4 linked regions of the Homo sapiens genome follow. The protein of the gene in region 1 interacts with the protein of each later gene in a biochemical or structural test. Each region holds a gene or a part of one and is shown on either strand. Other genes may lie near its edges.

Region 1 (7,036 bases):
CTTTTCATTGATTAGTTTCATTAATGAACTATTATAAATACTTTACGAAATTTTTTAACACAACTTTTAAGTCTCTGTGGGTCATACTTTCCATACTAGTCCATGTGTGCTACATGTGAGCAGCTGAACTCTAGAGGCACCAAAACTCAAACCTCCATAGCTGGTGCTATAAACCTTGCCTAGGCAAGGCTTCCTCTGCCTTTAGCCTGATTCTTGCGCTTAGCTTGCTTGGGCTCTGGCTCCAGGCTACGTCTGATTTTCTGGGCTCTGGTACTCACCCTGGCCCAACCTTATGCCCCCATTTTCACCCATAAAACATGGTGTTTTAATGTTACATTAAAACATATAACAAAGAAAGGAGATAATGAGGAGAAAAAGGAGGAGAAAAAAAACAATGAAATCAGTAAAAAGCTGGGGTGGAGGAATAACCTACAATTTTTTACATTGTTTCATTTTATACACTATCAATCCTGGGAAGCTGTCTGTGACAACAGAATAGACATGCATCCCTAGAATGCATATTTAAGAATAAGTATATGTATCTAGAAATATAATCCATATTGCTAAAAATCAATGAAAACTTCATACTGACCTTAGGGGGTTTAAACGGATAGTCTGGTGAAAAGGTAATGTCAAGAAAGAACACCCCTCCTTCATAGACAGATCCTGGGGGTCCCAATATAGTTGACCTCCATTCATAAATGTTGTCTCCTTTGGGTCCAGCACTGAAATAAGACATACAAATGAAATGTGCTTAGAAATTACATAAAGGCTGGAATTTAACAAAATCTATTTATGATAACCAATTGAGCAATTCCATAAAAACACAAAAAGTTAATCAGTTAACTCTCATGTTAAGATTCATATTGCCAATATTGTCATTATCCTAGAAGTGAAATATGTTGGTATCACTTCATAAAAGAACACCAAGATCCTCTTTTGCCATTCACAACCCTACGCCTATGGAACAAGAGTCCAAGGACTACAGGCCAGAGGTAGAAACACAAATGTTTAATGAAAGCATGAAATTATTTGTGATGTCAGAGACAAAATTTCAAAGTTAGAAGGACCTCTGGGGAATGACTAGTCTGATCCCTTTGCTAACAACTGAGAACACAAAGGAGGTTCAATGTTCATCATCCAAAGTCTCTGCTCAAATATCATATCCCATCTGAATCTTCCTTTCTTTCTCCCCACCCAAAGGACTTCCTGACCCATACATCATGACCAATGAGGTCTGTAGAGGATAAGATGTATCATTTTGTTTTATAACTGTGTTTTGCAACTAATGCTTCTTTCTACCCTCCCTAGAAGGTGCTTGAGGAACAGGTTGTACCTTGTCCTTAGTGCCTCTTAAGTCAGTATGTTGGATGATGATGAATTAATAACAAAGCAAGTGAAGAAGCCACATGGCTACTAGCAGTACACATGTCTCTGAGTTTCAGAGAATTTTGCTGAAAACAATATGGCCCACATGAGTCGAGTGAATTGTATTAGTTCTCTCAGGTGAAAAGAAGGGCAAAATGAGATTAGGATTTAGCTAATCCTAAGAATGGGCTCAAGCCATTCTTGGGTCTCAGCCTCTCAAGTAGCTGGGTTTACAGGCATGCATCACTGGACCACACCTGGCCCCTAGAAAATGTATTTTTAAATGAGTTGCAATAGGTCTTGTAGGGAAGCTATGAATAAAGTCATAAAAGATGTGTAAGATCTTTATGGAGAAAATTATATAAAACTTATTGAAAAGTACTCATAAGAGTTAAATAAATGGAGGGAGATACCAAGTTTATGGGTAGGGAGACCTGATATCAAATGTCAGTTTCTCCAAATTGATTCATCATAATTCCAATTAAAAAGTCCAACTGCTTTTTAAAACCAAAACTCGACAAGTTGATTTTAAAATTTTTTCGGAAGCTCAAAGAAATTCCTCAAACTTTTCCACACATATATGAAAACCTGATTTATGTCAACTGATGGGACTAGGAAAAGTTTTTATATTTGAAAAACAGAGAAACTGGATTTTTACCCTCAGTAAATAAACAAATGCTGTTGCAGATGGATTAAATATTTAAATGCAAAAGTCAAAATATTAGAGTTTGACTGAAGAGAGTGACAAGGCAAGCTGCAAACAGAAAAGATATTTGGATCATATAAAAGTGACCAAATACTAGTGTTGAGAATACACAAGTTCCTAAGAATCAACTAAAAAAAGACTCTATTAAAAAAGACATAGACATTTCCAAAAAAAGGGAAACATAAATGGCCAATAATCATATGAAAAATGCTCAATATCATCAAAATCGGGGAAATGAAACTGAAAATCAAAATTCAGTAATATTATTTTACAAAATGCAAATGCAAAAATCAATGCCTGACAAAACCACATGTTGATGAGGATGTGGAAAAACTAGAACTCCTATGTACTGCTGATGAGTATGAGTAATTCCTTCGGATGAGAATATAGGCTCATCTAGTTAAGTTGAATATACAGTTGACCCCTGAACAACAGGGTCTGCATTGCGTGGGTCAACTTAGATGAACTAAATTTCAAGAAAATACATTAGAAAAATTTGAGATTTGTGACAATTTGAAAAAACTCGCTGACAACGCACTAGCCTAGAAATATTGAAAAATTAAGAAAAAGGAACGTCATGAGTGCACAAAATATACACAGATATTAGTTTTTCTTATTTACTACCAGAAAATATATACCGATCTCTTACAAAGTTAAAATTATACCCACAAACCATACATGATGCCATGAGCATTTTAAAAGAAATGTAAGCAAACACAAACATAGAGTATTAAATCATAACTGCATAAAAGTAACTATAATACATACTGTACTACTGTAATAATTTTGTAGCCACCTCCTGTTGCTATTGCAATGAACTCAGCTATTGCCAATAGCTGCTTAAAATGCCTAAAATGCCACGTGACAAAAATCATCTCTGCATGAGCAGTTCATCTCTCCAGCAAATTGCGTATTGCCATAAAAAGTGCTCTCTCTCAGTTCTCGCATATTTTTCATTGTGTTTGTGCAATACCGTAAACCTTAAATAACACCATGGGATCCATACGAAGGGCCACTAGTGATTCTGGAAGTAGTCCCAAGAAGCAGAGAAAAGTCATGCCATTACAAGAAAAAGTTGAATTACTTGATATACACTGTAGATTGAGGTCTGTAGTTGTGGTTAGCTGCCATTTCACCTTGTAAACAGATGATGTAAACTCAGGGTAACAATAAACACGGTACAATACTGTAAATGCATTTTCTCTTCCTTATGACTTTCTTAATATTTTCTTTTTTCTAGCTTACTTTATTGTAAGAATACAGCATATATACATATAACATGCAAAATATGTATTAATTGAAATGTTTATGTTATGAGTAAGGCTTCTTGTCAAAAGTAGGGTATTATTAGTAGTTAAATTTGGAGAAAGTCAAACATTATACATGAATTTTTGATGGCACAGGGGGCTGGTACCTCTAAACCCTGAGTTGTTCAAGGGTCAACTGTACACCTATTTTACAACATAGCAACTATACTCCCAGGTATACACTACAGAGAAACTTTTACATGTGTGTATCACCAGAAGACATTGAGAATAATGTTTATTGAAGCACTATTTATAATAGCAAAATTGGAAACAACACAAATGGCTACTGACAGAAAAATGGGTAAATCCACCCAAAGGAATACTATATAGCAGTGACAATATACAGATTAACATGAATGAATCTTAAAAATACATTTAATAAAAAATTAAGACTAAAAAGAATCTATACAGTAGGATACTATTTCTACAAAGCTTAAAAACAAGCAAACAGGGACATATACTACTGAGGGACACATAAATATGAGGTAAGAAAAGAAAACCAGTAAGAAAAAAGTTCAGAAGAGTGGTTTCCTGGGTAGGAGCAGAGGTTGGAGAAGCAGCACACTGGAGTTTCAATGGTTCTGGGTATGTTTCACTTCTCAGTGTGTGCAGTGGATTCAGGTGCTTTCTGTTTTATTACTAGGTTTTCTCACCTACCATGTGTTAGATACGTTATTACATAGGTACCAAATTCTTATATTAAGAAAAATTATGTCAAAGGTCTACCAATATGGTGAGAAAAGCAACTTGCTGCATATGTACAATGTGATCCTACTGTATAAATAAAAAAAAGATCCTACTGTATGAATTTACAGGTCCTACTGTATGAATATTTTATATTATTTATGGATACATATCTATGTCAAAGTCTTTTAAGAAATTAACTGGAAAGATAAACCTAAATTCATGATAGTGGTTATGAGAACAACAAGGGATGAGGTGGAATGGGGAGATGGGAGGAAACAGATGTAGAGATAGGAAATGAAGGAGAGTTACATTTTATTTCTAGTGTTTGATTTCTCTTGTTTAAAAAAGGATGAAGTAAATAAAATCACAGTTATCCTAGCTTATTGCAAAGGGTTGGAATATATTGAGAAGCAGTGGTGTAAGGGACTAGAGTACAGCATTCCTCCCCCATCACCCCATTACCTCCTTTTCCTGAGGCTGGCAATGAGGCATAGACAGAGTATATTCAGCCCAGATGACAATAAAGCTTTGGCAACAACAGCCTCTTGTTGCCAGACAAGCTCACTCACTCAGATGAATAATACACATGGTTATGCCCTGAGCTATAATTAAACCCAATATGAATAGATAAGCTTATCAGAAGGAAGAGCTTAAAAGTAGAGAAAATCACAGGTTTATAGTTACAACATTACTTCAAGGTAGATGAATAAATTCAGTTAAAAAGTACACACAGGTGAGCGTATACAGCTATGAAATAACATACACAAACACATTTAGTAAATACCAAGCTACGATTTCTCTGGGTCACTTTAAGAAATCTTAAAATGGCCTCCCAAGAATGGTAACCACAGTAAATTACAAGATATAGGCTAAATAAGGAGTCACTACCAAATAGTGTGGCTGAGGAAGGGACTCTGAAGCAGAAGACAGCAGTATCTCACCAAGAAGGGCAATGTCTGCAGATAACATAAACTCAATTTTTGCCCATTCCAAGTTTTATTTGGCTCTCAGTCAGAACTCCAAGTTTTATTGGTTCTTTGAAGTCAGTCAGCTGTCTATGTAGTTATTAACAGTGGACTAAAATAACACAGCTAATATTATCACTCTGAATTGGTTTATGCTGTCAAAGTGTGCCACTTTAAGAAATCTTAGCCAGTAGCAACAAATTATCTTGAAAACAGACTGGTATTTTAAAATGCACATAAAACTAGCCTGTAATCACAGCACTTTGGGAGGCTGAGGCGGGCAGATCATTTGAGGCCAGGAGTTTGAGACCAGCCTGGCCAACTTGGTGAAACCCCATCTTTACTAAAAAAAATACAAAAATTTGCCAGGTGTGGTGGTGGGCGCCTGTAATCCCAGCTACTCGGGAGGAGTATCTGAAATACTCCTATCCCAGGAGATAGAAGATGGGATACTATCTGAGGCAGGAGAATTGCTTGAACCCAGGAGGTGGAGGTTGCAGTGAGCCAAGACTGCGCCACTGCACTCCAGCCTGGGTGGCAGAGTGAGACTCTCAAAAAAAAAAGAAAAAAGCATATAAAACTAATACTACTTCCCTCATATAAAAATTGGGTTTTAGCAACCTGGACTCTTCTAACATTTTAGAAATGTATCACTTGAAATCCCAAAGCTTACAGCAGTGGTTCTTGAACTACACAGCCCTCTGCCCCACTCCTATTTGGATATGTACCAGTTGAGAACCCAACATCCAAAACTTTGCTGTATAATATGGTAGCCATGTGGCTACTAAGCACTTGAAATGTGGCTAGGGCAAATTGAAATGTGCTGTATGTGTAAAATATATACCTAAGTTTGAAGACTTAATGCAAAAGAAAGTAAAATAGCTCATTAATAATTTTAATAATTACTATTTACCTATTAATTTAATAATTATTAATGAACAACTACATGTTGAAATGGTAATACTTGGAATGTATTGGCGTAAAGATGTATGAAAATATGCTTTGCTTATTTTTTTCCTTTAGTCTGGCTGTCAGGAGATTTAAAATTACATACATGGCTCACATCATATTTCTGTATCATGAATCAAGAAGTGAGAAAGAAATCTTTTAATCTTTTAATGATCACTTATCTCTCAAGCTGAACAAATAAAATTTGGTGCCAGAGGACACTTGCAGTACAGAGCAATGATGAAGAACATAAACAGGCTCTGGAGTCAGACTAAGTTGTCTGAATCCTAGCCTTGGCATTTAAAGCCTGTTAGGACCTGGGTAAATGTGTAATTTTTCTATGTCTTAGTTTCCTTGACTGCAAAATGAGATCATTATAGCACAAATCTTGTAAATTTTTAGTAGAACTGTACTCACAGAACTTGGAAAATAGTAACCCTCCAAATGTCAGTTGCTGTTGTGCTTGCTGTTACACGCTGCAGATGATCAAAAATACACTCAAAGAGGTTGACTGCTTTGTAAATTTATAAGAATGGTTTCAGGACTGAAAAACAAGGCTACAAAGATGTGTACATCAAAAAAAAATAATGATTCTGTAACCTAATCTTATGATGTATATTTAGATATAGCAGAACTTTAGAAATCATGTATATCCACTGCTGCCACTCTTAGGAAATCCAAATTATCAATGAATAGAATGTTTATTTAACAACAGGATTTTCAGGTATTAGGTTATTAAGTAATGTTTTCCCACTTGCAACATTCTGAAAATGATCAATTCCCTTACTGTTTTATTTTCAGATTTTATTTTTTAAATAAGAAAAAAAACCTAAAGCTTTCATAGTTAAATTTCAAAATAAAAACACAATGAGGTAAATCTTTTAGAATGAAAAATATCAGCAAATTACGATTTGGCTGAATGCCCAAGGTTGCTGCTTCAGGAGAAATTCTGCAACAGAATCAAACTGTGTTCAGCTTCCCATGCTGCAGCCTACAGTGGATGAGCCCCTATGTACAGCTGAAATATTACATGCAATAAAAATCATGAAAATAGG
Region 2 (4,522 bases), about 170 Mb from region 1:
TTTTTTTTCTTTTTTTTTTTTTTTTGAGACGGAGTCTCCAGTCTGTCACCCAGGCTGGAGTGCAGTGGCACAATCTTGGCTCACTGCAACTTCCGCCTCCTGGGTTCAAGCAATTCTCTGTCTCAGCCTCCCGAATAGTTGGGATTACAGGCACACGCCACCACACCCGGCTAATTTTTGTATTTTTAGTAGAGACGGCGTTTCCCCATGTTGGCCAGGCTGGTTTCAAACTCCTGACTTCAGGTGATCTGCCTGCCTCGGCCTCCCAAAGTGCTGGGATTACAGGTGTGAGCCACCATGCACGGCCGAGTTATTGGTCTTTTCTTAATGAACTGGAGGATACTTTACATAAAGGAAATTAGCTCTTTGTGATGAACTGCAACTATTTCTTCCCAAGTTTGCCACAGCTTCCAATTTCCCTTGATGGTAGTTTTTGTTATGCAGAACTTTTAATTTTCATGTAGCTGATTTTTACATATTTTTAAGTTGTGGTAAAATACACATAATAATCCATTTTTATTTTTAGTATTTTATTTTTCAGATTCTCAGCCTCTGCACAGCCTTAGTACTCCCTGAGAAATTCAGTGTTTGCATATCCTTTCCACAAAAATGAGAGGAAAAAGGACCAGTACCTGCTAGTGACTGATACATTTATTAGTTTCTAACAAAAAGGCATACATGGTAGGCAGAGTAGAAATACTAACAGAAATTAGTTTATCTTGAAACCAATTTTAGTCAGGAAGACTTCTTCACAGAGAATGAGCTGAATATATAAATCCCAAATATATCACACCATATATGTGATATATTTACACCTAAATATATCACACCCTCCTTTTTGGTCACAGACTATTCCAGGAAGATTAAATAGATAACGTTTAATTTGAGGCATTCAAGAATGTCCACCCTAAAACTGAAAGTGAAATTGCTCTTAGAGAAAAATTGGTTTGATGAGAAGATTGATCTTAGCCTGTCTCAGACAAATTTGGTTTATTTATTTTTACTTAACGACCCATGTGATAGTATAGTTGCAAGCTATACTTCATTTAACTACAATCATTACTCAGAGGACAATCACCTTAAGAGGCAAATTAAGTTTTAAATTAGCACAGAATTTATAATTACCCAATCAGCATTGACATAGATGCCATCAGGTATGCAAAGATTAACAAAATTCTATTACCAACCTTAGAGGAAAAAAACTTAATGACATACAGAAATACTGGCAAATTTAAGCTAGAATTAGCTCCAGGACATTTTATCTTATTTTCACATTAAAAGAATAGATTACTAGATATCAGCAGAAATGCTGTTAAAGCTATTTTTTACTAATAGTTGTTCATATTAATGAAACAAAAGATCAATAGTCTCTGAGCTAAATTTCACAAAATGAAATCAGTGTCTTCTGATTTAACTTTCAGGAGTAAGAAAGGGCAAAACCCAAGCACCATACTTTCTATTTCTGTTCATAAACTCAAATAAAAGCAGTATCAACACAAATGATCATATAAGAAAACACGTGGTTATGTTTCAGGTTCCACAACATAAGACACTGTGAGGTAACTCTCCTGTAATACATTCCCATTTTTTTCTGGAATAGCAGATGCATAGAAATGCAGGTTTCCAAAAATTCACCCAATTTAGTAACTAATTTTGATTCTGATGCCTGATAGTAGGGTGTGAAAAGCTGTAAAACCCAAATGTTTCCTGTGTTCTTTCACAAGGACAAGGGAAGAGGATGCTCTGCCAAACTGCCCCTGCTGCGTCATAGTGGACCAGTTTCAATGATCCAGACTGTCAGTCACCCCATCCAGCCTCATCCTCATCTGGACCCATTTCTCACCACCCAATCAGTTTCAATGATCCAGACTGTCAGTCACCCCATCCAGCCTCATCCTCATCTGGACCCATTTCTCACCACCCAATCAGTTTCAATGATCCAGACTGTCAGTCACCCCATCCAGCCACATCCTCATCTGGACCAGTTTCTGACCACCCAATCAGTTTCAATGATCCAGACTGTCAGTCACCCCATCCAGCCACATCCTCATCTGGACCAGTTTCTGACCACCCAATCAGTTTCAATGATCCAAACTGTCAGTCACCCCACCCAGCCTCATCTGGACCAGTTTCTGACGACCCAATCAGTTTCAATGATCCAGACTGTCAGTCACCCCATCCAGCCTCATCCTCATCTGGACCCGTTTCTGACCAACCACCCAATCAGTTTCAATGATCCAGACTGTCAGTCACCCCATCCAGCCTCAGCCTCATCCTCATCTGGACCCGTTTCTGACCAACCACCCAATCAGTTTCAATGATCCAGACTGTCAGTCACCCCATCCAGCCTCAGCCTCATCCTCGTCTGGACCCGTTTCTGACGACCTAATCAGTTTCAATGATCCAGACTGTCAGTCACCCCATCCAGCCTCATCTGGACCAGTTTCCGACGACCCAATCTGTTTCAATGATCTGGACTGTCAGTCACCCCATCCAGCCTCATCCCAGCTCTTAACTCCTTCTGCATAGTTCAGTTTCCTTTCTGGCAACTAATTCCCAATTTCCTAGAAAACCCTGATTTTCTGATTTAACACTGATTCGAATCCACTTTAAACCAAAGGAAACAGGCCGGGCGTGGTGGCTCACGCCTATAATCCCAGCACTCTGGGAGGCCGAAGCAGGTGGATCACCTGAGGACAGGAGTTCAAGACCAGCCTGGCCAACATGGTGAAATCCCATCTCTACTAAAAGTACAAAAAAAAAAAAAAATTAGCTGGGTAGCTGGGTGTAGTGGCACATGCCTATGATCCCAGCTACTCGGGAGGCTGAGGCAGAAGAATCGCTTGAACTCGGGAGGCGGAGGTTGCAGTGAGCTGAGATCGCGCCATTGCACACCAGCCTGCGTGACAGAGCAAGACTCTGTCTCCAAAAAAAAAAAAAAAAAAAAAAAAAAAAAAAAATCTGGGATTTCCCACATATGAATATGAATCCAAATTTTGAAACTCCGTCTAAAAAAAAAAAACAAACACCAAAGGAAATGCTACAATGCTGAAAATTGAATTAAATTGGAGATGGAAATTAGATTACTTTAGGAAAACCTTTTGAGTACTCTGTAAACATTGGACAATAGCAAGAAAATGGATTTTAAACCCTGCATGGGTTCCTTAATCACTCAGAATAGTATAATCTTGCTTTGATTACCAGTCACGACAAAAAGGTGAGCAAAGGCCATAAAACATGCAGTTTTTGGAAAGACAATGGCACTTGAAGATTTCCTGGAGTTGGCCAAAGCTTAAGATATCTCTAAGAATTGTAAAGCTTAATACACATCTGTTATTAAGAAGGGAAACGACAGGGGACCCCTGCTTACCGCTGAGCTGTGCAGAAGCTCATGTGTCTATGCAGTCCTTACAATCACACAGACCTTCATTAAGGACAATGAGTGTGCCTAGAGAGCAGCATGAATGACACATGGATGAAGATTCCATGATAGGAAAGAGCTTCACATTCCAGCTTTACTAGATCACAAAGCACTCCCTTTACCAGGCCTTACTTTGTGCATCTCTGAAACATCTGAAAAACACTTTTCTGTGAAATGCTAGGCTGTAGGGAGTGAGCACTTTTGGATACCTTACAGTGATCTCTAGTAGAATTTGGCATCTTTCTTCTATTAACTGACTGCTTCAACTGCATCTTTAAAGACACTTGCCTATTTTTGTCCCTTGAGCCTCTCTCTGGTGTTGGATGCTTTGTGTGAGTTTGCCTTTTGAAGTTCCCATCTTTGGGATTCTTCCTCTGTCCATTTAGCACTTTGTCTGGAGGGGAGGATGTAGCGCGTAAGTGATACTCATCTGGGGATCCTTTTTGCCGGTTTGGCACCATTTGCTCTTTATCCACCTCCTTCTGAAGTTGTAATGCCAATAACCTGTCCTGTTCTTCTTGTTTATGTCTCTCAAACAGTAGATGCTCCAAATCTATCAGTTTTTGGGTAAAGTTTATTTCTGTTTCCTCTTGATCTGGGGAAGATTCGGGGGACACTTTTCTTCTTTTTGCAGAAAAGCATGGATCCTTGACTGCTTCAAAGGAAGATTCTTGGTTTTTTCTTTTGGAAATCTCCTTACTGATCAGTAGGCACGACTCTTCATTTTCTGTCTCACCTGTGTTGTTTCCATTTGTCTGTGTCACCCCTGATGTGGGGGCGCACCCACTTTCTGTTCTGCCACAAGGCATAACTGCAGTTTCTTTCGAGTAGGGAACTCTGGTTTTAGGTCGCTCGTGACTTAAGACACATAACTCTTTCCCATGATTGCTTGGTCTTGTTTTGACGTTTCCTTCATGGTACCATTCGGCACCACAGGCACATAACCATGGCATAGGGGACTCTATTGAAGAATCTGCACCTTGTTCTCCAACTCCAAGGGATATCTGTGGAGAAAGTGTCGGCATATCTTCTATTTCTGTGTCTTGCCCTGTTGGGCTTTTCCTATCACTACTGTCAATGTCCTGTAGAAAACAGAAAAAG
Region 3 (7,036 bases), on another chromosome or scaffold:
CTCCCTTTTTTTTGAAAATTACAATGCACAACTTTCATGTATGACACTGGTTTATCACATGGCATTGAAAATAAGACGTGGCAGCAAAGGCAAGGGAATCTGCTTTGTTCAGGTACCAACTAGAAAAAATATATATGTAACTTCCTCTGAATTCATAAAATGAAATGAAACCACAAAAAAACTGATGCTACAACCACAGTAACTGAATGCGGCACATGGATTTCAGAATGGAACTTAGAAATTAAAAAACAAAAACACAAAAAATGAAAGAAAATAACCACCACTTTCCTGCTTTCCAGACCTCAGACTATTTTTTCTGATTAGACAATAGGTAACATATGCAGTTTGGTTACCCACATTACACATTTCCTCTCTTGTTGCTTTGTATCCTTTGATTCCAAATTTGTACATCACATCTTGTTGGTAAAAAGGCCAAATGACGGGAAATGCCTCAATTTTAAAAAGTCATATCCTAGGTCTGATTTGTAACATTTTCCTCGATGATATCAGTAGGTACCATTCTGAAGAAGGATCAGATGAACTGCCCTTTCTTCGAAAGTGGCAGAGAACCAATGGCTTTACTTCACATTAAGCCCACCATGACAGACAGAAGGTGACCACTACATAGAGAATGGATGCAACACAGAATAATCTCAACACAGAAACAATTCCTATGTTGTTAGTGAAAAAGAGAGTAAGTTTTTAAGAACAGGGAGTTATTGTTTTATGGGATCACCTGCTGCAAGACAAGCATTATTTTAATATAAATGTTCTGAGACATACCAATAAGGTTGGCAGGTATATACATATACTGATGCAAATGTAATTTCACTGGACAAGTAGGCAAACATCTAAGCAGTTTATCCCAACCCCCTCCAGCAGAGCACAACCAAGTTTCAAAATTTCAATTTTAAAATTAAAAAGATAAGGTTAAATACACAAGATCAATTTATGTAGTATATATTCACCCTCAGAACGTGCTGAAGATGTTTTGTGTAGTTCTGTTGCACAGAGGGTTCTTTCCCTGAGGGCACATAAGGAGCTCTCAAACTGTTAATAGGTCTCTATTTTGTAACAAAATAGCAATTTTAAAATCTTAAAAAAAAATACATTACCTTCAACATGGAAGATCTCACTATTAAATATCCATGAAATAGACAGACTGGTTTGCATATCCTTTTTGGAATTACAAACAGCAAATAAAGTACATTGGAAGCATTTCAAATGTAATAAGCACATATTTATAGAAAGGTTCTGATATAAATTATATAACAATCATGTTCCTGTAATATTCTAGGCTAATTTATAATGTCAGAAAAGTTAATGTAACATGGTTTAAAACCCTTGTTCCTATTCATTTCAGGTTACAGAGTGAAATAAATAAAATGTCTTCATAGGGATGGGGAGCACTGGCCATGGCAAAAAAGGTACAGTACTAACCAAAGGAAACTAAGTCAAGGCTACTGTGCTGTTGTTATGCTACAAACAAACATCTTCATACATTTGAGTATTAAATAAATGTGTAAGATCTTCCATACTGACACCAGAATATCAAAACTACCCCTTTGTTTCTCAGGTATATTTACAACTTATCAGTCACCTTATGAGCATGTTCATTAAGACAGGTATCAAACACCAGTATTTACTCATTCTAATCAAGAAATTTCAGGGAAATGTCAACCCTCCCGCCCCTGGAAATGTGCACAAAACTTTTTATCAAAATCTTATCTGATACAATGCTGTGGTTTTGTAAAACAACTAAATAGCTCAGACGACCAATAACATGATCCTGTTTAAGCATCTTGCTAGCAGGAAAAGCCCTTACATACAGTACACCTGGTGAAAGATCAGCTTGGCTTAAAATATTCCAGTACAATTTTCAGAGTAAACAACTTCACAGAAGTTAATTAAAAAAATAATAATAAAAGTCAAACTAATCTTAAAGAAACAGAAGAAAAACAGATAGATAAACTATAGGTAAAGATCACCAGGAAGGAATGCCCAGCTCTTCTTTTCAAATGTTGACTGAAATTTAGGTTTCAGTACAATACCTCCCACAAATCTGATGCATGACTTGTTGAACACATTGTATACTTTCAGATGCCAAGTCAAAACCATTTCAGTCACATTTTAGCAAGGCAGAAATTATTCATGTTCTTAAGTATGAATAAATGTTAGCCACTGTTCTACTATTACACAGTTCATAGTCTTATCAACCTAACAGTCAAAAAACAAGAAAAACTAAACCCCAACATGAAGTAACAATAAACAATATTTAACCAAGATAATGCAATGAACAACCAAATTAATTAGTTTAAATTAAAAACCCAGCAATACCATCTTGTTAGTCAGTGCAAACGCTACATACAGGGTTTTCTCAAGAAAGCTGAAAGCACCTGATTCTTTTGCCAAGTCATCAGATTCAATAATGTACAGGCTTAAATCTGCATTTTAAAAAACTGCCATTACATTAGTGCATAATTTATCAAAATTGTAAAAACGATTCTGCATAACTTAGGAGAATTTAATATCTAGTACATCAGCTGAAAGACTTAGGCACTTGGTTATATTTTTAATTAATTACTTCAACAAGTAGCCTGTGTATAAATATTAACAAAGCAGAAACTACTCTTGAAAAATGGAAAATTAAAAAAAAATTATATGCTACAGATAAAAGCACTGCACCACACTCCTACATATAATGCAGTAAAGAATGCTAGTATATAACCCTGTAAAATTCTATGGTAAGAACATCTAACTCCACTCTTCAAAATTAAAAAAAGAAAAAGAAATCCATGCAAAGTTCCATGAAAAAGATAAATAAAGCAGCTGGAATGAGATGGAAACTTCTCTCAGTGAAACATAAAATAGAAATAAATAAGTTAACTAAGTCTACTTTCACTAGATGTATCATTGTAGGATCCTGCTAGTTTAATAACTGAGTTGTTAATTTTCTATAGAAGCCATTTAAAATAGGAAATGGCTCAGTTACTGCACCGGATTGCTACAAACTCATAAAAAGCTGCTTGAAGCTTAAGTTAAATGTTGTCCAAATTCCAATCATTTCTGGAAAGTGAACATGTTACCCTAGTAAAGTAAATTTTCTTTTTTTTTTTCATAATGCTAATGCAAGAGGGCTTGAAGTATCAAAGAGTCCACAGGAAATGGATGCCCCCAGTAATATCTTTTTTTTAAAAAAAATATACATTATATAATATATATTATATATATAAAAAGCTAGTGTAAATGCTTCCATGGTGTGGTCACAAATTTGAAAGATGAACCTCCTTTCAGCTGTTAACCATCTTCCCATTTGCAACAGGTTTTAAAAAGTCGTTTTTATCTTCAGACATAACATGAGTTTTCAGAATGAGGTTGCCAGCACTGACAGATGTGGTGATGGGGAGGCAACTTGCATTGCTAATAGACACTGGGAGTGGCTGGCTAAAGCAAGAAGTTACCGGCAGAATTGTTTTTTGCTCCTCCCTGAGAAAAAAGAAATGACATTAAAAACAAATTAGCTTTAAGTGCAAACTGTTAAGGGTGACTATACATATTTAATGAAAGCTACAGCAAACTTTAGGAGTCTCTAGCAAAGACATGTCTTTATCACTAGAAGTATCAGAAGTAACTAGAAAAGTCCTGTTTTCCTATTTTTGAGACAGAGTCTCCCTCCGTCGCCCAGGCTGGAGTGCAGTGGCATGATCTCGGCTCAATGCAACCTCTGCCTCCTGGATTCAAGCAATTCTCCTGCCTCAGCCTCCCAAGTAGCTGGGATTACAGGCATGTGCCACCACGCCCAGCTATTTTGTATTTTTAGTAGAGATGGGGTTTCACCATGTTGGCCAGGCTGGTCTAGAACTCCTGACCTCAAATGATCCACCCGCCTCGGCCTCCCAAAGTGCTGGGATTACAGGTGTGAGCCACCACTCCTGGCTTGAAAAGTCCTGTTTTCCAAAAGTTATGATAAAAATTAAAATACTAGTTAGTTTAAGGCCAAACTACCAAGTTGAAGATTAAGCCCATATTTTTGGCAGTAATTATTCAAAATGGCAGTATTATAGCCAAGAAAATATACTATATTATATGCTATCTATCTATAGATAGATAGATAGATAGATAATTTTGAGATGGAGTCTCAGTCTGTCGCCCAGGCTGGAGTGCAGTGTCACGATCTTGGCTCACTGTCTCCGCCTCCCGGGTTCAAGCGATTCTCCTGCCTCAGCCTCCCAGGCAGCTGAGAATACAGGTGCCCGCCACTATGCCCAGCTAATTTTTTTGTATTTTTGTAGAGACAGGGTTTCACTATGTTGGCCAGGCTGCTCTTGAACTCCTTGTGATCCACCCGCCTCAGCCTTCCAAAGTGCTGGGATTACAGCCATGAGCCACTACGCCCAGCCTAGCCAAGAAAATCTTAACATGATTTTCAAAAAGAGAAACCATTAATCTAGGTTGTCATTCTCCATTTTGTAGTCTAGAAATTTGGCAACCAGATTAAAGAAGCATAACCTGATGCTGGAACACAGATTAACTTTATCTCAACAAAAAGCAAGTTTCAGGCTACCAAAATGGACTGCTTTGTTAGTTCAATTTTACTTTTTCTTCCCTAAAAATCCAGATTGACCAAATCATTGCCCATATAAGGTCTTCCCCTCACAGCATAAAGCCAAAAATTAATTTCGCATTTTTTTCTCTTTATTATGTCCTATGCCCACTGTTTATGAATTTTCTGTCTAACACTCACAGAATCACATGGTCTTCACCTAAACTCTGTTTCTTCTGCTTTGGTGGCTCCTTTTGGTGCTGCTGTACTGGATGCCCATTTTCCACTGCCATTCCATTTAGCAACTGATCATTTTGAGAACTGATACCAAGCTGTATGTCCAAGATCTCCTAAGAAAATAAAATGTTAATCCTTCAGTATGAAAGTATTTTATAAATTTTCAATCAAACAAAGCCTCTCAATTATCTAATTGTGGCACTTACTTCAATTGGTTCACTTTGTCCATCAGGTTCATCAGTATCAAGTGCTGAAAGCTCTAACTCGATATCCCTATCAGGTTTAGTATCTGTTGCATCTTCTGTATAATCACTCTGTAACTAAGAAAAATACTGATTTTGCTCTCCCTCTCCCTCTCCCTCTCCCCATGGTCTCCCTCTCCCCATGGTCTCCCTCTCCCTCTCTTTCCATGGTCTCCCTCTCATGCCGAGCCGAAGCTGGACTATACTGCTGCCATCTCGGCTCACTGCAACCTCCCTGCCTGATTCTCCTGCCTCAGCCTGCAGAGTGCCTGCAATTGCAGGCGCGCGCCGCCACGCCTGACTGGTTTTCGTATTTTTTTGGTGGAGACGGGGTTTCGCTGTGATGGCCGGGCTGGTCTCCAGCTCCTAACCACGAGTGATCTGCCAGCCTCGGCCTCCCGAGGTGCCGGGATTGCAGACGGAGTCTGGTTCACTCAGTGCTCAATGGCGCCCAGGCTGGAGTGCAGTGGCGTGATCTCGGCTCGCTACAACCTCCACCTCCCAGCCGCCTGCCTTGGCCTCCCAAAAAGCCGAGATTGCAGCCTCTGCCCGGCCGCCACCCCGTCTGGGAAGTGAGGAGCGTCTCTGCCTGGCCGCCCATCGTCTGGGATGTGAGGAGCCCCTCTGCCTGGCTGCCCAGTCTGGAAAGTGAGGACCGTCTCTGCCCGGCCGCCATCCCATCTGGGAAGTGAGGAGCGCCTCTTCCCGGCCGCCATCACATCTAGGAAGTGAGGAGCGTCTCTGCCCGGCCGCCCGTCGTCTGGGATGTGGGGAGCGCCTCTGCCCCGCCGCCCTGTCTGGGATGTGAGGAATGCCTCTGCCCGGCCGCCACCCCGTCTGGGAGGTGAGGAGCGTCTCTGCCCGGCCGCCCCGTCTGAGAAGTGAGGAGACCCTCCGCCCGGCAGCCGCCCCGTATGAGAAGTGAGGAGCCTCTCCGCCCGGCAGCCGCCCCGTCTGAGAAGTGAGGAGCCTCTCTGCCTGGCAGCCACCCCGTCTGGGAAGTGAGGAGCGTCTCCGCCCGGCAGCCGCCCCGTCCGGGAGGGAGGTGGGGGGGTCAGCCCCCCGCCTGGCCAGCCGCCCCGTCCGGGAGGTGAGGGGCGCCTCTGCCCGGCCGCCCCTACTGGGAAGTGAGGAGCCCCTCTGCCTAGCCAGCCGCCCCGTCCGGGAGGGAGGTGGGGGGGTCAGCCCCCCGCCCGGCCAGCCGCCCCGTCCGGGAGGGAGGTGTGGGGGTCAGCCCCCGGCCCGGCCAGCCGCCCTGACCGGGAGGGAGGTGGAGGGGTCAGCTCCCAACCCGGCCAGCCGCCCTGTCCGGGAGGTGAGGGGCGCCTCTGCCCTGCCGCCCCTACTGGGAAGTGAGGAGCCCCTCTGCCCGGCCAGCCGCCCCGTCCGGGAGGGAGGTGGGGGGGTCAGCCCCCCGCCTGGCCAGCCGCCCCATCCGGGAGGTGAGGGGCGCCTCTGCCCGGCCGCCCCTACTGGGAAGTGAGGAGCCCCTCTGCCCAGCCACCACCCCGTCTGGGAGGTGTGCCCAACAGCTCATTGAGAACGGGCCATGATGACAATGGCGGTTTTGTGGAATAGAAAGGGGGGAAAGGTGGGGAAAAGATTGAGAAATCGGATGGTAGCCGTGTCTGTGTAGAAAGAAGTAGACATGGGAGACTTTTCATTTTGTTCTGTACTAAGAAAAATTCTTCTGCCTTGGGATCCTGTTGATCTGTGACCTTACCTCCAACCCTGTGCTCTCTGAAACATGTGCTGTGTCCACTCAGAGTTAAATGGCTTAAGGGCGGTGCAAGATGTGCTTTGTTAAACAGATGCTTGAAGGCAGCATGCTCATTAAGAGTCATCACCACTCCCTAATCTCAAGTACCCAGGGACACAAACGCTGCGGAAGGCCGCAGGGTCCTCTGCCTAGGAAAACCAGAGACCTTTGTTCACTTGTTTATCTGCTGACCTTCCCTCCACTATTGTCCTATGACCCTGCCAAATCCCCCTCTGTGAGAAACACCCAAGAATG
Region 4 (7,036 bases), on another chromosome or scaffold:
AGGAAGAACAGTAGAACTGAAAAGCTCGGGGCTGCTACGGATTGCCTTACCTCTCACTGCATGAGCCATCTGCTTCTGTGCTGCCTGAATTAAATCTCTGGCTAGGGTCTTTTCATCAAATGTTTGGCCTCTAGTGAACAGGTAATTCTCCTTACTTAAAGTGGTTTGCTCATTCAATGGTATCTCAGCCTTCACATTCTTGCTAGCTAAGCAATCACTGGTAGATAGAGTTTCCCTGCTGTGAGGTCCTGAACTTGTGTCACCCTTGCCAGCACTCTGGGAAACCTGGGGCTCCTCTTTCACTGTGACAGATTCCTGCTCATCACCAGTACTTTCCTCATCAGTGTCATCTTCTTTGCTGCTGCTACTCTCTCCTGTTGCATTTTTACAGTCTGTATATCCCATTTTCAAGGCTTCAGTGGGGCTGCTTAGACAAAAACGATCTTCAGGGTTTACAGAATGGGTCCTCCTAAAGCTCTCTGAGCCCCGGCCGTAGGTAGAAATATTCAGTAAGTAGTGCCCTGCCATTGCAGGTTTGGATGTCCTTCTGCCAGCAAAACCCAGCATGAACCTCTGGCTTGTGGAGATGTCTTCCAGCTGGAAACCTGAGTGAGCGAAGTTGAACTGTGAGGGCGGCACAACTGAGAGAAGATTCTGCCTCCGAACCCTCTGAATGAGAGTCTGAAGGATCTGATCTTGGGTTGCTTTACTTAGTCCTTCGTGGTATTGGTGTGTGTCAATGCTGGAGTCCCTCAGCTCCTTAGCTGAAAAGAGCTGAAGGGGCCTTGGAACCTGGGGGAGCTGCTTACTTTGCAAGGTTTTGCCCAGCTGCTGCTGCGTAGCTGGATGGGACTGTCTCTCATTAACTTCCTCTCTGGTGCTATTTTCTGTTGTGTTGGTAGCTATGAGCGCTCCCATCCCCCTTTCCTCTTTTGCAGTCAGTGGAACCGTTTTCATTTCAACTTTGGTGAGAGGTTTAGGCAGAATTTGCTCCATGGGAACATCTTTGCCTTGAAGCAGCTGAGTCACTAAAGGATTATTAGCAGGGATACTAGAGGTTGGTCTTAAAGTGGGTCCATTCATGTTTAAAGAAGTTCCTGGGGTTTTAAGGCTAGAAGCTGCTGGCAAAGTGCTCGAGGGTGGAGCTGATCCAGCAGGTGCTGTAGTTGCACTGACCTGGGGTACAGGAAGCTTTTCTAAAGTGGCTGTGGTCAATAAAGATGTTAAAGGGGAGGGAGTTACAGCCACTGGCACACTAGCATCTGTCTTTGATGAGGCTGAAGGGTTAGGTATATTCTTACTAGGACCTGCTTTGAGCTCAACTGTGCCATCAGCTGCACAATGAACAGGTGAGGCACCTGAGATTAGAGCAGGACCTGTTGGAGAAGGTGCTTTCTCCTGTCTGCAACTACTGGGCCCTTGTGGATGGCTGACAGAGGCCACTGTGGCTGTTGCTCTGGTGGGGTTCAGTTTTTCATTATCCAATTTCTCTATGTGGGCTGGTGATGGGACACTTGTGCATGCTCCACTGACGGCAGGTGTTGGAGGCACTGGGGGGGTTTGCTGTAGTTGTGCTCCAGAGACACTATGAGGCTGTGCCTGGCTTGGGGTGGTCTTGGTCTCAGACTGGGGCTGAGTCTCTGGACCACAGGGTAAAAGCTCTCTCGTACCTCCCCTGCTTCCAGTTCCTGCCAGTTCCAGTGTGGGGCCCTTTCCAGTTTCACTGACTCTGTCTGAGCCTGGACTGCCTCCTCTAGCAGTCTGCCCTTCACCACCCTCTCCTGGACCTTGTCCACCCCCTGGGCCAGGTCCTGGAATGGTCCCTCCAACTGAGGCGGCTGCAGCAGCTGCGGCGGCAGCGGCAGCTGCTGCCCTCTGTGCTTTGACCAGTTGGGCTTTTGCTTTGATGTCTGCAAGAGTTCTGGCTCCTGTTCTGTTAGGACTAGTGATGGAGACTGGAAAACGAGCCCTGGGAGAGACCTGCGATGGATGAAACGGCATGGGGGAGATTCTGGAGACCGGGATCTGAAAGAAGTAGAGGGGAAAAAAACAACAGAGCTTAGTTTTCATTTGTAAGAATAACAAAACTTCATTAGCCCTCACATTTTAAAAACAGATGAACACTACAGTACCTGTGACAAACATGGGTGGTCTATGGCCGAGAGGCCAAACCTTGGAGACAGCAATACTAGTTTGTCTCTAGGGTCCTTGCATCCACTTTTTCTATTGGTGCCAAAGACGACTGCTTCCACTCTCACCCCAAATCCCCACACCTCTTTTCCTATCTCAACTCCCTCCTAATGCCACTATTACAAGTGCTTATTATGATACAAAGTTTTCTATGGTATTTGCATTTTTAAAAAGTGTATTTATGTTTGAGAAAGAAGAGAAAAGCAAGCAAGCCAGCCACCCATACCACTACTGTCTTTTAGTTCTTAGCTTTACTACCAAGGTCCAGGGGAAAATACTTGCTCTTCTCTGTTCCACACACACACACACACACACACACACACACACACACACACACACTTGGGCTGGATTATCTCAAATTACACAGGCTTCTAGACAGCACTGGAAGGAAGACAATGTGTGATCTATAGGAGCCCCCACCATGCCCATACACATAAAGGAGTATGTACATAATGTTTGCCAGCCATTCTCATCTCTGGCTGGTATTATATTTACTTGCGCAATTTTAAAATATATATGCTCTGGGTCCTATCCCAAAAAATTACAAATCAGAACCCCCAAGACCCTAGGAAGTCTTTTTTTTTTTTTTTAGATAGGGTCTTGCTCTGTCTCCCAGGCTGGAGTGTAGTGGTGTGATCTCGGCTCACTGCAACCTCAGTCTCCTGGGTTCAAGTGATTCTTGTGCGTCTGCCACCCGAGTAGCTGGGATTACAGGTGTGGGTCACCACGTCTGGCTAACTTTTGTATTTTTAGTAGAGATGGGGTTTCACCATGTTGGCTAGGCTAGTCTTGAACTCCTGACCTCTTGTGATATACCTGCCTCGGCCTCCCAAAGTGCTGGGATTACAGGCATGAGCCACAGCACCCAGCCTGAAAAAGCCTGGCCAACACAGTGACTCCAGAGGGAGCCTCCAGCTCAAAAAAAAAAAAAAAAAAAGTTTCTAAAAAGCTACTTGTGAGATTCTGATGTCTATCAGGTTTGAAACCATTGATTTCCTTCTTTTTTTTTTTTTTTTTTTTTTGAGACAGTCTCACTCTGTCACCCAGGCTGGAGTGCAGTGGCAGAATCTCAGCTCACTGTAACCTCTGCCTCCTGGGTTCAAGTGATTCTTGTGGCTCAGCCTCCCGAGTAGCTGGGATTACAGGTGCCTGCCACCACACCCAGCTAATTTTTTTGTATTTTTAGTAAAGATGGGGTTTCACCATGTTGGCCAGGATGGTCTCGAACTCCTGACTTCAAGTGATCCACCCACCTCGGCCTCCCAAAGTGCTGGGATTACAGGCGTGAGCCACCACGCCTGGCTGAAACCAATGATTTTCATACCATAAAATCATCATGTCTGAAACAAATCTGCCTTCTGTCCTGAACAATACTTTGAAAGCTATTAGAGTTACTAATAATTCAACAAGATGTGGACTCTTCTAGTAACTGGTTGAGTTTAAAGGAGCAAATAACTGTTAAGATGTTCTAAAGCATTTAATTAAAAAAAAATTAACCCACTAAACCCTAAGAAAATGCATGCCATTTTTCTTAATGTTTTTAAATTAAGAATAATAAAGTCACTAAACATTTTTCATTATTTGCAATACTCATTTCTCAAAAGGTCAGTAGTCCTCAAAAACTGATTCTCTAATTCCGAAGTTAGAGCCATGGGACTTCATAACAGGTGTCACAGAGTATATATTTTACATCAGGAAACCTATTTAATCTCTCTAAGAGCTAAATCTATTTCACATCCAATTCGAACAAGCCTAGATAGTATATTTACTCATCACATAGCATTTTAGAGGCTGCCTACAGTAAGAAAGAAGCAGTTATTGTCCCTTATTTATATCATATGAAAGAAACTGCAGGGGAAAAAATGAAAAAAAAAAAAAAGATAAAACTAAAAAAGTAAATACAAGAAAGGTGTTTAGGGGAATTTATATAGGGACAAACAACTTTACATAAGAATACTCGTGAGAGTAACTCTATACCTAACATAATACATCATATCTATCATAATAACACAATCATTAATAACATGTTGAAATCAAATAAGAACAACCATTATAAGTGGTTAAAATGAAAGGTTTCGATACCTAAAAATAAGTTTCAGTTACTTACGTAAATAGCCCTATTACCTGATTATGCAAAATAAATCATATTTCTTTTTAAGTACAAAACCAAAGCTGTCCAGGCATTGATAACAATTTAATTTACTGAGAAGCCCTACCCCGGGAGAGCAGAGAGATTCAATCCTTTTCTTTTTAAGTGTACAGTCATCCCTTGGTATCCATGGGGGATTGGTTCTAGGACCCCAGAGGATATCAAAATCTGAGGATGCTCAAGTCCTTTATATAAAATGGCGTAGTATTTGCAGATAACCTCCACATATCTTCCCATATATTTTAAGTCATCTCTAGATTATTTATAACACCTAACATAATGTAAATGCTATATAAATTGTTATACTGTATTTTTACATTTGTATTTAATTTTCTTTTCCAAATATTGCGATAGGTGGTTGGTTGAAAATACTGCATTAACCTTGAGGATGTGGAACTTGCTGATACAGAGGGCTGACTGTATAGGGAATGTAAAACATATAATGTGCATGTGTGTATATATAGTTTTTATATACATTTGTATATATATAAAAGTTGTAACTAAGTTATAACATTTATACTACATTGTGAATTTTGTTTTCTACTACTACATTGTGAATTTTGTTTTCTACTTAAATTTTGTTTAAAAGGTTTTGTTCTGTTATAAATTACATTAAACTTTGTCTAAGAAAGCAGTATTTGAGATAGGGTCTAAGAGAAGAGAGTTACTAAAGACACTTCTGGAGAAGTCTTTTTTGAGGGAGATGAGGGAGAAGAAAGGAAAAGAACTGAAAAAAGTAAAATTATATTAACTTGGTCACAGTGGATTAAAGTTTCTGTGTAATCCCTTTGGACTAGCAGAAAGCAGACAGAATATGATGTAACCCAGCCTGTTTACAGGTGAGAAAATAGAAATGATGGGTCTTAGCAACATTTATAGCAAAACCTAAACAGTTACTCAGCTCTCAGGTCTGGAGATAAGCTGTGAATGACATTGAAGAAAAGTTTCTAATATTTTTATAAGAAAGAATAGTAAAAGTGATTATAATAAAAATCAGAATCTCTGGCGATGCATGTTAATGGTAGAAAAAAAAATAAGAAAAAACCCCCATAGATTCGTAAGTGCTAAAATCACCAATTTTAAAGAGCAATGAATTGGCCAGGCGTGGTGGCTCACACCTATAACCCTAGCACTTTGGGAGGCCGAGGCAGGTGGATCTTGAAGTCAGGAGTTCAAGACCAGCCTGGCCAACACGGTGAGACCCCTTTACAAATAATTATTTGTAAACATACAAAAATTAGCCAGGCGTCGTGGCTTAATGCCTATAATCCTAGCTACTTGGGAGGCTGAGACAGGAGAATCCCTTGAATCCGGGAGGTGGAGGCTGCAGTGAGCCAAGATTGCATCACTGCATTCCAGCCTGGACGACAGTGCAAGACTCCATCTTGGGGGGCAAAAAACAAGCAATGAATAAAAAAGTAATAGGAAGTACAGACGGTGGCCCACGCCTGTAATCCCAGCACTTTGGGAGGCAGAGGAGGGCAGATGACTTGAGGTCAGGAGTTTGGGACCAGCCTGGCCAACATGGTGAAACCCCATCTCTACTAAAAAATAAAATTACAAAAATTAGCCAGGTATGGTGGTGCATGCCTGTAATCCCAGCTACTCAGGAGGCTGAGGCAGGAGAATCGCTTGAACCTGGGAGGTGGAGACTGCAGTGAGCCAAGATTGTGCCACTGCACTCCAGCCTGGACAACAGAACGAGACTCCGTTAAAAAAAAAAAAAATACAATGAGAATGGGTCAAGTTCTGGTAAGTGAATCTTTCCAAGGAATACTTCCTGACAGAACTAATTTTGGTTCACCTCAGTTAAATAAAAAGGGGGAAAAAGTACTTTTACTAGTCTTATTTTTCCATTTATATCCTAATGAGTAATATTCAGTGCGTTGCCTCTTAAATTCCTTGGTAAGAAAAATAAACACTATTTATTAAATGAATGAACTGCAAGCTGATATTAAGCACAAGCCCAAGTATTAATAAACCTTTAAGATCAGAAGTAAAAATGTGTTTGGGTTTTAAAAGGCATTGTATATTAAGACAGTCAAAGATACTACCTAGAAGAATTTGAAAGATTTGACATGCAGCAATACAAGGCTAACTGGAAGTTAATCACATGCTAAGCAGCAGAGCTTACCAAGACTATTCCATGTTACTAGTGTCCCTCAAGTAACCAGTAGTGACAGAAGACAGCTACACATATTTCCTTTAATAGGAGGGAGCTAAAGGTAGTTCCTGATTCACAGAACATCAAGTCAGTTATGGTAGCAAGAAAAGGGTAAACTCAAATACCATGGCTCTTGGTACAAAGATAGGATCCTTTGATTACACCAATAGTCTCCTCATGCTTAGTCTCACATTTCTTATTTTGTCAATAATTTTCATGATGGTCTGGAAGCATGCATTACAGACTACCTGTAGGGGAACCGAAGGAAGCCCAAGACTCTTCCACCCTGGGATTGTGATCAACTCTTCTCTGCAATATCTGCGTGAACCCTGGCCCAAAAAATCTAAGAGGTCCTGAGGAGACAGTAGGACAGTTGGCTGTCAATGTTCTACAGAGGCTGAGAATTATAACTAAGTTTTTGGAAGTCCATTTAAATTATATTTGGTCTAAGAGTCTGAGATCAGGTGCCTCTGAGCTCAAGTAGTGAGCACAGGGGTGGTTTACATTAGATGCCCAGGTACCTTCCTTATGCA

What was found.
Region 2: the proteins of UBE2E2 (region 1) and RNF168 form a complex in vitro, tested with the Homo sapiens proteins (one study listed by BioGRID).
Region 3: the proteins of UBE2E2 (region 1) and RC3H2 form a complex in vitro, tested with the Homo sapiens proteins (one study listed by BioGRID).
Region 4: of the proteins of UBE2E2 (region 1) and ASXL2, one has a biochemical effect on the other in vitro, tested with the Homo sapiens proteins (one study listed by BioGRID).

Annotation. Positions count from the first base shown.
Region 1 is NC_000003.12:23,493,297-23,500,332, reverse strand, and holds part of UBE2E2 (ubiquitin-conjugating enzyme E2 E2), read right to left. Parts: intron 726-7,036; coding exon 593-725; intron 1-592.
Region 2 is NC_000003.12:196,468,270-196,472,791, forward strand, and holds the end of RNF168 (E3 ubiquitin-protein ligase RNF168), read right to left. Parts: intron 4,504-4,522; coding exon 3,550-4,503; 3' UTR 514-3,549; downstream 1-513. UniProt on the Homo sapiens protein: E3 ubiquitin-protein ligase required for accumulation of repair proteins to sites of DNA damage. Acts with UBE2N/UBC13 to amplify the RNF8-dependent histone ubiquitination.
Region 3 is NC_000009.12:122,846,337-122,853,372, forward strand, and holds part of RC3H2 (roquin-2), read right to left. Parts: intron 5,101-7,036; coding exon 4,987-5,100; intron 4,894-4,986; coding exon 4,745-4,893; intron 3,487-4,744; coding exon 3,291-3,486; 3' UTR 1-3,290. UniProt on the Homo sapiens protein: Post-transcriptional repressor of mRNAs containing a conserved stem loop motif, called constitutive decay element (CDE), which is often located in the 3'-UTR, as in HMGXB3, ICOS, IER3, NFKBID, NFKBIZ, PPP1R10, TNF and in many more mRNAs.
Region 4 is NC_000002.12:25,742,452-25,749,487, forward strand, and holds part of ASXL2 (putative Polycomb group protein ASXL2), read right to left. Parts: intron 2,026-7,036; coding exon 1-2,025.